Linked DNA regions of Homo sapiens: all the other regions are reported to be linked to region 1. The links are microRNA targets in miRTarBase. Many come from high-throughput screens and were not tested one by one. Region 1 holds a microRNA gene; each other region holds the end of a gene's coding sequence.

What was found. The annotated mature microRNA hsa-miR-2278 reads GAGAGCAGUGUGUGUUGCCUGG and lies in region 1 at 1,016-1,037, shown strand. An mRNA with a match to its seed (bases 2 to 7 or 8) in the 3' UTR can be bound and repressed. Matches are read on the target gene's strand: a 7mer-m8 pairs with bases 2 to 8, a 7mer-A1 pairs with bases 2 to 7 and ends in A, and an 8mer does both.
Region 2: the mRNA of VPS4A is a reported target of hsa-miR-2278. Seed matches in the 3' UTR shown: 7mer-m8 at 2,382-2,388, 7mer-m8 at 1,041-1,047 and 7mer-A1 at 332-338.
Region 3: miRTarBase lists AXIN2 as a target of hsa-miR-2278. Seed matches in the 3' UTR shown: 7mer-m8 at 829-835.
Region 4: miRTarBase lists GRAMD1B as a target of hsa-miR-2278. Seed matches in the 3' UTR shown: 7mer-m8 at 1,269-1,275.

Annotation. Positions count from the first base shown.
Region 1 is chr9:94,808,962-94,812,036 of GRCh38, forward strand. It overlaps MIR2278 (microRNA 2278), which reads left to right and starts at 1,001; the gene lies at 1,001-1,096. All of the region lies in intron 5 of AOPEP (aminopeptidase O (putative)), which reads left to right.
Region 2 is chr16:69,323,829-69,326,903 of GRCh38, reverse strand. It overlaps VPS4A (vacuolar protein sorting 4 homolog A), which reads right to left. Exons shown (of 11, transcript NM_013245.3): 11 at 1-2,696. The coding sequence ends at 2,595. COG8 (component of oligomeric golgi complex 8) reads left to right here. Exons shown (of 6, transcript NM_032382.5): 6 at 1-476. Among named protein-coding and RNA genes, the nearest start is that of PDF, 5.2 kb to the left of the region's middle.
Region 3 is chr17:65,527,092-65,530,166 of GRCh38, reverse strand. It overlaps AXIN2 (axin 2), which reads left to right. Exons shown (of 11, transcript NM_004655.4): 11 at 65-1,604. The coding sequence ends at 191. Among named protein-coding and RNA genes, the nearest start is that of AXIN2, 33 kb to the left of the region's middle. RefSeq lists enhancers at 1-139, 1,962-2,256.
Region 4 is chr11:123,622,088-123,625,162 of GRCh38, reverse strand. GRAMD1B (GRAM domain containing 1B) reads right to left here. Exons shown (of 20, transcript NM_001387025.1): 20 at 1-2,657. The coding sequence ends at 2,568. Among named protein-coding and RNA genes, the nearest start is that of SCN3B, 31 kb to the left of the region's middle.

The DNA.
Region 1 (3,075 bases):
CTTTTTTCATAGATGTGCAATCTTAGAACATCCTATTGAAAGCGCAGTTGGAAAGGGGTGGATGGACAAAGCCAAGAACTCACTCGACAAACATGTATCAACGGACAGGTGTGATGAATGCTGATGATGCTGTGGCCATGAGGAAGTATAGACCTTTAGCCTAAATCTAAATTGGGAGTTTCTAAAGTTGGTTTCAAGGAAGACTAGTTTTATGGAATGTTAATAATGTGGGAAAAGGAACTGTAGGTTAATTAGTTTAGGAAATAAATGGATTAAATAAACTTAAAAGAGATTCTTTACTGGAGGGCTTCTAAGAAAGCCTTTAATATTCTTATGATCCTGATTTAATATCCTGGTATATCTGTGCATCTTGAAGACAGAGACAGGATAAGCAGTATTCCCCCAACTGTTGTGTCGAGGGAGCCCTTTTTACAGTGAGCATTTCATGGAACCACTGTGGTTTCAAAAAAACCACCTCCTCAAAACACACTTTGGGAGATGATTCTATTCAGAAATATCTGGGAGTCCATGATACAGCTGGAGATGGAATTCGCCTTTCATTCTGTCAGTGGTGAGTGAGGACCTGACCTGCATGCGTCAGGCCCTGGGCAAGGGCTTTGCTTTACAGCAGTGAGGAAGCACAGGTCCTGCCCTCTTGGGACTCACAGTTTGGTGCAGGAGGCCCCCATGCTTTTCTGTTTATAGACCTCTTTTTGAGCAATTACCCAATTCATATATCTATATTTATTTATTTATAAGTTATATGCATTTAGTACAATGTTAATATATTAGGTACACTATAAAACACATACACAAAATAGAAAATGTAAAAGGATGAGAAAAAAACAATTATGAAAGTAAATTCTGTCACTTTTATCCCAAAGAATTGGCACGTGCCCTGGGCTCCCTTCAGCTGCCTGGGCCCTACCCTGGAGACTGACTCAGTGAATTGAGCCGCAGTCTTGGTATCTGGAAGGCTAACAGGTCTTCCCAGCTGATTGTGCTGCAGGTGTTGGAGAGCAGTGTGTGTTGCCTGGGGACTGTGTGGACTGGTATCACCCAGACAGCTTGCACTGACTCCAGACCCTGCCGTCATGTCACAGGTAAGAAGGTCAGGAAGAGGCTGGAGCGTGCCGGTGAATGGGTGAGAAAGCTCCCTGGTGAGGCTTCCTGCTTTTCTGTTGCTCAGAAGGAGGCCGTGCTTCCTAGGAACTGCATCCAGTCACAGGCGGGGACTTTGGGCAAGTCACTGGGCCTCCCTGGCCTAATTTTCTTCTCTGGAAAAGTAAGGGGGTGATTTAGAATAACCCGCAGAATGTCTTAGGGCCCCTACATTTGATTTAATCAGGGTTTTTTTGTTTTTTTTTTTTTGAGACAGAGTCTCGCTCTGTCACCCAGGCTGTAGTGCAGTGGCGCAATCTCGGATCATTGCATACTCTACCTCCCAGGTTCAAGCGATTCTCCTGCCTCAGCCTCCCGAGTAGATGAGATTACAGGTGCGCGCCACCACACCTGGCTCGTTTTTGTATTTTTAATAGAGATGAGGTTTCACCATGTTGGCCAAGCTGGTCTTGAACTCCTCACCTCAAATGATCCACCCACCTCAGCCCCCCAAAGTGCTGGGATTACAGGCGTCAGCCACTGCGCCTGGCCTTTAATCAGGTTTTTTATTTCAACAAGGCATGGGGGTGATTCAGTTTCGTTCAGCAATTTAAAATACATGTATATTTTCTTTTTGATGTAAGAGCTAGTTAGATCATGAGGCTTGGATTTTCTTGGACTCTGTGGGCACCTAGGCAGTAGTAGGTGTTTAAATTTTAGGCCCCCAAGCAAAAGTTTCAGAAGGGGGCCTCTTTAACCCTTGTTAATTGCAAAATAAACAGATCTCAAGGGCAGGGGCCCCTTCTTTTCATAATAACTGCCTCTGTTTTGTGTGTCATCAGTGAAAAGCATCATTTTCAAATACTCCATCAGGAGTGGGTTCCATCACTGAAGGCCTTCTTCCTTCAGCCCATCAAAGGACCTCCTCCTTTGACCCCTCAGAGTCAGTGGCTAACCTGCCCCCTACCCCTGTCACATGTCTTTAGCTTCCAGATATCTCCATTTGCAAGCTAATAAGTTGCACATACATATGTTTGAACAGTTGTCAGGCTTGTCTGCTGCTCAAACTGTGTTTTAGTTTAAAACAACAACAACAGAGAACTCAGAGCGGGGGAATGGATGAAGACATTTCAGTTGTGCCTGCAGGTGGTGTTGTTTTGACCTTGACAGTCAGTTTTAAATGACTTGTCAAGTACCAATGTGTGCTTCTGGGCACACCCACCTGGAAGATATTATGTCCCCTAGGCTTTATATGCCCCAGCAGGCAGGCATGAGGTCCCTGGATTTTGTTTTCATTGATGGAAGGTTAATGCATGCATGGCAGAACTTTACTGAGAGGGGCGCAGCTACAAACCCTGTTTTCATTTAATTCTGATTTCTCTTCTCCCTTGGCCTTTCCCTCCCTGCCCCCAGACCTCTTCCGTCTGGGCTCTCTCCACTCCCCATCAGCAATCCCTTCTCTACCACAGCTGCCCCCCACCACCACTTTGGCTTCAAACCATTTATCCTGGCTTTGATATCTCCTTGCAGAGCTGTAAGCAACCAGGAGATGCTGGGTCCCAGAGCTCAGCAGGGTGCACTGCCTGGTAGGGGACTGGGCCCCAGTCTCCAGGCCACTGCAGGAAATTGCACCCAGAAAGCCTGCCCAGGCCCCTGTGCCTGTCCCGGTAACCACTCAGGTGCAGCCCCCAGAGGCGGCATCTCCTCAGCTTAAGTGTTGTCTGGGGAGAACTTCTTAGGATTATTCTAACCTTTCCGATGGTCCAGGTTCATCTCTCTGAATTTTACCTGTTTAAACTTGGAGTGTCTCCCGTACCCTCAAAGGCCACACATGCTTGTGCTGGCAAGTTGGGGTGAGGAGAATAAATGGACAGATGAAAGGAACCTATTGGATTCATCCTCCTGCCTACCAACACTTCGATAGTTTCAAGTTATTTGAGAGTACAATTGATGGTCCCTTATCCAGGGAACACT
Region 2 (3,075 bases), not on the chromosome of region 1:
AAATCTCTCCCACTTTGAGCAGGAAGCACTCACAAAAAACGCATATACATGTCAACGTTGTGAGCTCATCAGAGTTTTAGAAATCAACTTCCACAGTGAAAGCCAATGTAGGCAGAAGGTTTATAACAGAATCCCCAGGCAGAGAAGTGAATTTCAGAGCATTTCAGGGAGGAAACTCCTCTGCACATGTCAGCATGTTTAACATCGATGATGGCAGGTTGTGTGCTGGCAGCCAGAGTCTGAGGCCACTGTCCAAAGTTCAGCGTCAGTGGTTCCTGTTGCTGGTCATGGAGAGAGACAACTGGAAAGTCAGGTGTCTTCACGCTCTAACTAGAGCACAGGGATGGACCATAGCCATGCTAACCTTTGTTAACCCCTAGGACTTGTCAAGGTGTTTAAGCAGTAGGAATGAGGAAACAACGTTCTGATTCAAGTAAATGTAACTAGAAGTAAAAATTTAAAAACTTGTAAGCTCACTAAAGTGAAGCTCTGCAGACACGGTTCATATCCTGGTGGCTGAGGGCACATAACCAAGAACTTACACAAGCACCCCCAAGCCACAAAGATCCCAGCTGCTATGGTTGAGGGGTAACCTGCCAGCACTGGAGCCAAGTGTTGGAGCTACTGATCCAAAGTTAGCTCACTTCTGCAGAGGCTCTGAACCAGAGCAAAGAAATGGCCCAGTGCAAGCCCAGTGTGAGCCAAGAGTTGGCCATGTAATCAGTTCTGGCCCAACCAGGTTTGAAAGGTAGAGGAGCAGTACTGGGTTTTGGAGAGGGAAGGTTGGAACAAAGCCCTTTGCAGGCTATAAGCTTCATTTACTAGGCCAGGTCTTTCTGTGTGAATGTGCTTTGACTTTGGTCTGTTTATATGCATGGGGTAAACGTGGGACAGCCTCTGCAGCTTCACTGCCTGCCGGACGTGGGTCCAGGGCTGCCAGCTCTGGGTCCTTGGTCTGTTGGGGGTCGCAAACTGAAATGGCCATGGGGCTATCTGGGCAGGCAACACAGATGAGTGGGGATGGGGGACCCCTTCTGTACAGAGCAGCCTCTACTTAGTGGCCGCTGACAGGCTGCCCCATGAGGACGCAGGCCCAACATTACCTAATTTAATCTTCTAGAAGTCAGAATTCTGAATTTTTATGTCAACTCTCGACTTTTTTTTTTTTTTTGAGACAGAGTCTTGCTCTGTCGCCCAGGCTGGAGTGCAGTGGCGCGATCTCGGCTCACTGCAAGCTCCGTCCCCCGGGTTCACGCCATTCTCCTGCCTCAGCCTCCCAAGTAGCTGGGACTGCAGGCGCCCACCACCACGCCCGGCTAATTTTTTTATTTTTAGTGAGACGGGGTTTCACTGTGTTAGCCAGGATGTTCTCGATTTCCTGACCTTGTGATCCGCCCGCGTCGGCCTCCCAAAGTGCTGGGATTACAGGCGTGAGCCACCGCGCCCAGCAACTCTCGACTTTTAAATGTTAGCGGCCCAAAGTGCTGGGATTACAGGCGTGAGCCACCGCGCCCAGCAACTCTCGACTTTTAAATGTTAGCGGCAGACCAAACCAAACAAACACAGCTGCAGGACGGGTCTGGTACGCAGGGCTCCCACTTTGCAGTCTCTGATCTGTAGGCCGAACAACGGCAAGAACTGTCTGGATCCCACAAACATCCCCAGCCAAACTTCTGAGGCCTTAAGGGGAGGAGGCCTTGCACACCTGACTGGAGAACAGGCCTAAGAACTGCAGTGTTCTGTTTCCTGCTCTGCTTTAGAAAAGAGAGGAGACAGAAAACCAGAGGGTCTTTTAATTGGAAGCAAGGGTGGCCCTTCAGAGTCTCAGTTAAGAGTCAAGGAAAGATGAGATCACTTGGGTAGCTCAAGAAGGGAAAAGGATTTATTAGACCATTTCCAGGACAGGGACCCAGGGGCAGTGGCTGGGTTCAGTGTTCTCACGCTCAGAGGAAGAAAAGGCAGTGGTGAACACCCGCCTGACTGCCTTACCCTGATCTAAACGACACCATCTCCTCCCCCAAGGAAGACACAGCCCTGGATGTGAACCTAGGAGGGTGGGAATGGCTTATGTCACTCGGTCTTTGAGGCAGAGCTTGGGCTGGGGTTGCAGGGGCATCAGCCAATCTGCTCTCAAGGAGCAAAACTTGGGCGTAAAAGGAACGGGCAGTGGGGCTAGCCGGCTGTCTGGAGGTCTGGGTGACCTGGCAGCACGGCTGCTTCTCCCCCGCCACCCCGCCCCACTCCTTGACACTTCCAGGTGATTTTATCTTTATAAATAAGATGAAAATCCAAGCAGCATTAATTTAGGGGAACAAAAGATGGAAAAAAAAGGGGGGGAGGCAGAAGGAGCTGATGAGCATCCAGGAGAGGAGGAAGTAGGAAGAGCAGTGTCCACTGTGTGCCCCAGGGCAGTGGAGTGTCTCTGTGGCTGCAAGGCCCTTCCTTCTGGCTCCCTGGCAGACGGCCAGACAGCAGAGGGAACTCTGTATTGACTGGGACAAGCCCTGGAGCCCTGTCTGGCTGTTGACATGGGGAGTGCCTGGATTTGCCCCAATCAACCTCCCACCTTCACCATTGCCCAAGTGAAGCAGCTTTTAACTCTCTTGCCCAAAGTCCTCTGAGAATTTCTTCACTTTCAGGAGGTCGTCTGCATTCACCGTGGGCCGGGTGGTGGCCAGAGACCGCAGCATGTCCGACTGTGAAGGCAACAGTATGTGCCTGAGCAGGAGCCAGGCTCCAGGTCCCCAACCTCCCCTCAGCACACAACAGGCGCAGCTGAGGGTGGGAAGAGGTTTGCCTTCAAGGCCACCCCAGAGGCCTGCTTGAATCTGCCTATGGCAGGGACCCTCTTCCCTCTCGAGGCAGCTCAGATGGGCCTCCTCCTGGTCTGAGAATCTAAGCTCCATCATCTCATAACTCCCCTTACGAACTTGCTTTCTTTTTTTTTTTTTTTTTTTTTGGAGACGGAGTCTGTCACCCAGGCTGGAGTGCAGTGGCATGATCTCGGCTCACCGCAACCTCCACCTCCTCGGTTCAAGTGACTCTCCTGCCTCAGCCTCCCAAATAGCTGGGACT
Region 3 (3,075 bases), not on the chromosome of region 1:
CTTTTCTTTTCAACAATGTGGAAAATGCAGTTTACCAAGAAGCTTTTTTGGTTTTCCTTTTAAGGTATTACTTCAAAAAAGCAAGCGATGAGTTTGCCTGTGGAGCGGTGTTTGAGGAGATCTGGGAGGATGAGACGGTGCTCCCGATGTATGAAGGCCGGATTCTGGGCAAAGTGGAGCGGATCGATTGAGCCCTGGGGTCTGGCTTTGGTGAACTGTTGGAGCCCGAAGCTCTTGTGAACTGTCTTGGCTGTGAGCAACTGCGACAAAACATTTTGAAGGAAAATTAAACCAATGAAGAAGACAAAGTCTAAGGAAGAATCGGCCAGTGGGCCTTCGGGAGGGCGGGGGGAGGTTGATTTTCATGATTCATGAGCTGGGTACTGACTGAGATAAGAAAAGCCTGAACTATTTATTAAAAACATGACCACTCTTGGCTATTGAAGATGCTGCCTGTATTTGAGAGACTGCCATACATAATATATGACTTCCTAGGGATCTGAAATCCATAAACTAAGAGAAACTGTGTATAGCTTACCTGAACAGGAATCCTTACTGATATTTATAGAACAGTTGATTTCCCCCATCCCCAGTTTATGGATATGCTGCTTTAAACTTGGAAGGGGGAGACAGGAAGTTTTAATTGTTCTGACTAAACTTAGGAGTTGAGCTAGGAGTGCGTTCATGGTTTCTTCACTAACAGAGGAATTATGCTTTGCACTACGTCCCTCCAAGTGAAGACAGACTGTTTTAGACAGACTTTTTAAAATGGTGCCCTACCATTGACACATGCAGAAATTGGTGCGTTTTGTTTTTTTTTTTCCTATGCTGCTCTGTTTTGTCTTAAAGGTCTTGAGGGTTGACCATGTTGCGTCATCATCAACATTTTGGGGGTTGTGTTGGATGGGATGATCTGTTGCAGAGGGAGAGGCAGGGAACCCTGCTCCTTCGGGCCCCAGGTTGATCCTGTGACTGAGGCTCCCCCTCATGTAGCCTCCCCAGGCCCAGGGCCCTGAGGCCTGCTAGAATCACTGCCGCTGTGCTTTCGTGGAAATGACAGTTCCTTGTTTTTTTTGTTTCTGTTTTTGTTTTACATTAGTCATTGGACCACAGCCATTCAGGAACTACCCCCTGCCCCACAAAGAAATGAACAGTTGTAGGGAGACCCAGCAGCACCTTTCCTCCACACACCTTCATTTTGATGTTCGGGTTTTTGTGTTAAGTTAATCTGTACATTCTGTTTGCCATTGTTACTTGTACTATACATCTGTATATAGTGTACGGCAAAAGAGTATTAATCCACTATCTCTAGTGCTTGACTTTAAATCAGTACAGTACCTGTACCTGCACGGTCACCCGCTCCGTGTGTCGCCCTATATTGAGGGCTCAAGCTTTCCCTTGTTTTTTGAAAGGGGTTTATGTATAAATATATTTTATGCCTTTTTATTACAAGTCTTGTACTCAATGACTTTTGTCATGACATTTTGTTCTACTTATACTGTAAATTATGCATTATAAAGAGTTCATTTAAGGAAAATTACTTGGTACAATAATTATTGTAATTAAGAGATGTAGCCTTTATTAAAATTTTATATTTTTCAAAACACTGGCCTCGTCTTTGAATCCCCAGGGTGGGAACAGGGCCGAGGGGCCCTTTTGTGTGTAGACATCTGTGCTTGATTTCCTACCTTGCCCAAGCCCGTCTCTGACCTTGAGCCCTGACCTGATCTGGACCCACCTGGAGGTTTTGTAAAGCCATTTATTCAAATCACCTGGCTACTGGCTGAGGCTTTTCTTGCCTTGGAGCAGGCTGTAGATGACATCTCCTTTGGGGGTCCTCTTCCCTGTAACACCTCCATTCAGCCTCTTCCTCCTGGGCAGATTGTCTCCAGTCCGGCCAGGTAGGTGCAGGGGACCAGGGGATGAGAGGAGGCCCTCCCAGGAGTTTCAACAGGTGTCTCCGACATGAAAGCCGTTCAGCAGATGGTTTCATAGACCTGGAATGTCCACGTGGGGCCAATGGACTTAGAGATCAAAGCTAGCCAGGCACCCTCCCCATTCTGGGAGCTGATCAACAAGGCTGACTATTAATCCTATCAGTATTTTATCGTGAGCCATCAGGCTCAGGGCCGGTCAGGTGTCGGGAACATAGCAAGGAGGTGGTTCAGGAGGAGGCGACACAGGCAGCTTCTGCACCGCTCGGTGGACAGGTGTGCTTATGTGGCCAAGGACCTCGGCAGGCAGTTGCCCGCTCAACAAACGTGCCCTCCCTGTATCCTGAGCACTTGGCCTGCATGCCAGGCCATACTTTAGATCTGGGAAAGCAGGTCTTTTTAGTGGAGTCCTAGGAAGAACCCTTTTTAAAAACAGAGGATCTGTAACTGCAGTTGGACTTGACTTCTTGTGTGCTGAGTTTTCATGAAATGAACTCGGTGGTCTGCAGTGGATCTGCTTGGCTTGTTCTTCCTGCTGCCAACTGGCGTCAGGCCGGCAGCATAGAGAAAGGCCAGGGTTCTGGCCATGCGGGGTAGGGATGGACTCGAACCCAGTAGCCTCGGAGTGGTGGCAGTAGTAGGAGTTGTCAAGGCTGCTGGGAGAGTCCTGAGTTACCCTCTGAGAAGGCGAGGATGTGAGGGCATCTGGCAAGAGGCTGGAGGAGCTCTGATGCCTTGAACTTGTCCCTAACCATGCAGGTGCTGTGCCCTCCCCTCCTGGCTGGAATGGGGGTTCATACCAGGGTGTCCAACACTTTCCGAATTGTAAACTTCTTTCCAAGACAAAAGGATGAAGAGATGCAACCTATTGTGTGTGGTGAAGATTGGGGTTTGTGGATGGCTTTTCATCTCTATCTTCAGGCCTCTTGATTGAGGAGAGTGATGAGGTTGGGGCTTGGGCCTCAGACAAACTGGACTGAAGGCCCAGCACCACCACCCTCTGGGTGCCATGAGCGGGTTTCTGGCATCTTCTAAGGTGCATTTGTGAGAGAGAACTGGACTAGTTGATCACTCATGTTTCTATCTCCTGTTTTCATTCTTTTTTTTTTTTTTTTTTTTTTTGAGACAAAGTCTCACTCTG
Region 4 (3,075 bases), not on the chromosome of region 1:
TATCTGCAAGGGTGAGTTAAGATGTCTTTCGCAAGCTATTGACTAAGGGGGAAGAGATTTTGTTTGGGAATGAATAGAGTTGTTGGTTTTTTCCTGGTATGATAGTCAAAAAATTATTGGAACACAGAGAGCCTACAAGAGATCCATGATTCTTAAAGGACATTCCCTATGTGCACACATTGTCTAGTGGGTTCAAATCGCTAAAAAACCAGGAGGGCTCTTCTGACATACTCAGTACTGCCCTCTCTGCCACCTTTTCCTCCTGGGAATGGTCCTGAGAGGTAAAGCAGAAGCAGAACAACTCCCTGCGGCCAGGTCTGCTCTGTCACTTGACTCCCAACAAAGAACCCTTTTTAAGTCATCCCAAAGGTCCCACCGTGGCACCTTTAATAATTAAATAACTTAAGGAAATAATTATGTATGGAATAAATTCAGGAATCTACAAGTTTTGCATTCAAAACTTTCTGGGAATAGTTTTGGCTTCTGGCTGTGCCAAGGGGGAGATTTCCAGCAGTCTGCACCATGCCTCCTTCTTTGGCTCAGAGCCCATGAGCCTTGATCCCTACCAGTGTCCCTCACCCAAAGGCCTGGACAAGAACTGAACAAGGACCCACTGGGCTGTGGGCATAGGCACTCTTCACAGGGATTACATGAAACTGCATTTCCTCCCATCTCCTCTTCTAGGGGAGGAATATCCACTCTAGCTCATGCCCTGGAGCCTCCTCACCCTCCTCCCTTGGAGGATCACCTGGGCATGGACCTTCCTGTTTTCTGATCCTGCCCTTAGGGAAATACCAAGGCCTTATTCTCACATGGAAAAGTCAAAAACTGTAATTGCCACAGGGAATTAAAGGCCATTCTAAGAAAAAAATACAACTTTATCTTTGGGGTAGATGAGTGATAAAATCTTCTGTCTTTTGGGCTGATGTTCTGGGACATCTGGGACATCTGGGGTTTCTTCTGCCCCTGTGTCAAGAAGCCCAGGAGAAGAATAAGCAAGACTGAAGACCTCTGCATGCCAAACTGGCTATGACTCTTTCATGAATCTCCACAAGCTCTGCCTGGAGCTGGTGGGACTCTTTTGGTCATTACATGAAGAAACAGTAGTTAGTGTATGAGGGATGATGAATGTGCCCAGAGGGCCCCGTGAATTCAGATAAATGCATGGTGCTAGTGGGCCAATGCTGAAAAGGCCCTGAATGTCTCACTCTTTGAAGCTAGTGCCTTCTACTTCTTAATGATCTTACACCTCTGTGGGGCCAGAGACCAGAGCAGGATTTGTACTCCAACCCCCGCCAGAACCCCCATTGCCAAGTCTGAGAAACTCAGGATTGGGAATGGCTCCCGTAGGGCATAGATTTCACTTGGCCTTTTCCTGCCCAAACACATGCACCTTTGCCAAATCCTTCCCTCCAGTGGCTCAGATGCTTTTTCTATGTGCAAACTGTCTCAGACAGTCGTCTCCACTGGCTAATGTTGGTTCGTTCAAAGAGCAAATGAGGCTGGCAACCCATCTTGGTGCTCACCACTCACAGTGTTCTGTGGGTAGACCCTGCACCCCGGACGTGGCAAGGGCCTTCTCTCCCTCTCTCAAATCCTGGAGGGCCCAGCACACCCTGACTCATCCTGGAAATCACACTGACAGCTCTAAGTGAAGGCCTCAGAGCCACAGACCTGACTTGCTTAGAAGCACTAAAAGAGGTTTAATAAGGTCGAAAACGCTCCACCCTGGCTAATAAACAATGTGCTCTTAGGGCACAGAGAAACAATAGGACTTTAGGCACTAAAAAGTGACACTTCGCCCAGATCCAGCCTGGGAGAAGACCAGAGAGAAAGCGGGTGGGAAAGTAAGAAATTCCCAGCCCTTACTGGGTCCACACCCTACACAGGTCGGAGGAAGGTGCAGGGGTGATGGAGGAGAGTATCCTTCAGAACACGAGTCTCGGGAGCCTGCCACCACACAATGCAGCCTTCCTAGCTTTCCAAGCATCCTCTCCATCTGACACTCAGTACGGTCTGGATCAAGTGGGCGGCCAACCCTAGGAGTTTAGACTGGGCTCCCTTGATGCTTCTGTGTTCCCAAGAGAATGCCTGGGGAAGCCTGGGGTAGGGAAGAAAAGATTCTCTTTTATTTTGGAAACAAATCAAAAGGGGATTAGGGAATGAAGCACCTTAAGCAATGCCGTCTTAAGACTTCTTTTTGAGACCTTAGGGTCTTCGCAGGCATAACTTTGGCTCAACATTTCCCTTCTAAAAGCCAAGAATGGCCAGCAAGGGAAGGGGTGGGGAACAGAGGGTGGGAGGAGGGAGATCAGGGGAGGTCGGTGCTGAGAGGCGGTTCCTGCCCTCCTCAGCTGCTCCACCATAAGAAAACGCTGCTCCGGCCAGCACAGGGCGCGGGAGGGCCCGCTCCTTCTCCCTGGTACATAGGCATTATCTCTTTTTTAAAATCTGTATATAATATATATATTTATATTCTGTATATATATATATTTATATATATATATTTATATGGTCTATGTACATGTATTGCACAGGCCTCTTGCAGCCACCCTGTTCCTGCCTTGTCAATGATAGCGATTCCTCTTTTCTTCACTTTCCGACGTGTAGTCGCGGGACCTGATGCCGTTCTGAAGGTTGATGAGCGAGTCCTTCATCTGCAAGACAGAAAACCCCACCCCAGGCCTGGGTCTGCGCTTTTAGTGGGATTCTCCACCGAGCAGCCCTCTCCCCACACCCGCCTAGGGCAGGCCTCCAACCACGCCATGGGGCTGAAAAGAGTCGGGCACCTAAAGCAAGGGTGGTTCTCAACACTGTTTCAAACAGAAAGGGGACAGTCAGGCTGGGTGCAGTGACGCACACCTGTAATCCCAGCACTTTGGGAGGCAGAGGTGGGAGGATCACTTGAGGCCAGGAGTTTCAGACCAACCTGGGCAACACAGAGAGACCCCATCTCTATAAAAAATTTAAAAATTATAGCCAGGCTTTGTGATATGCACCTGTAGTCCTAACTACTCAGGAGGCTGGGGTGGGAGGATGGCTTGAACCCGGGAGTTTGCAACTGCAGTGAACTAT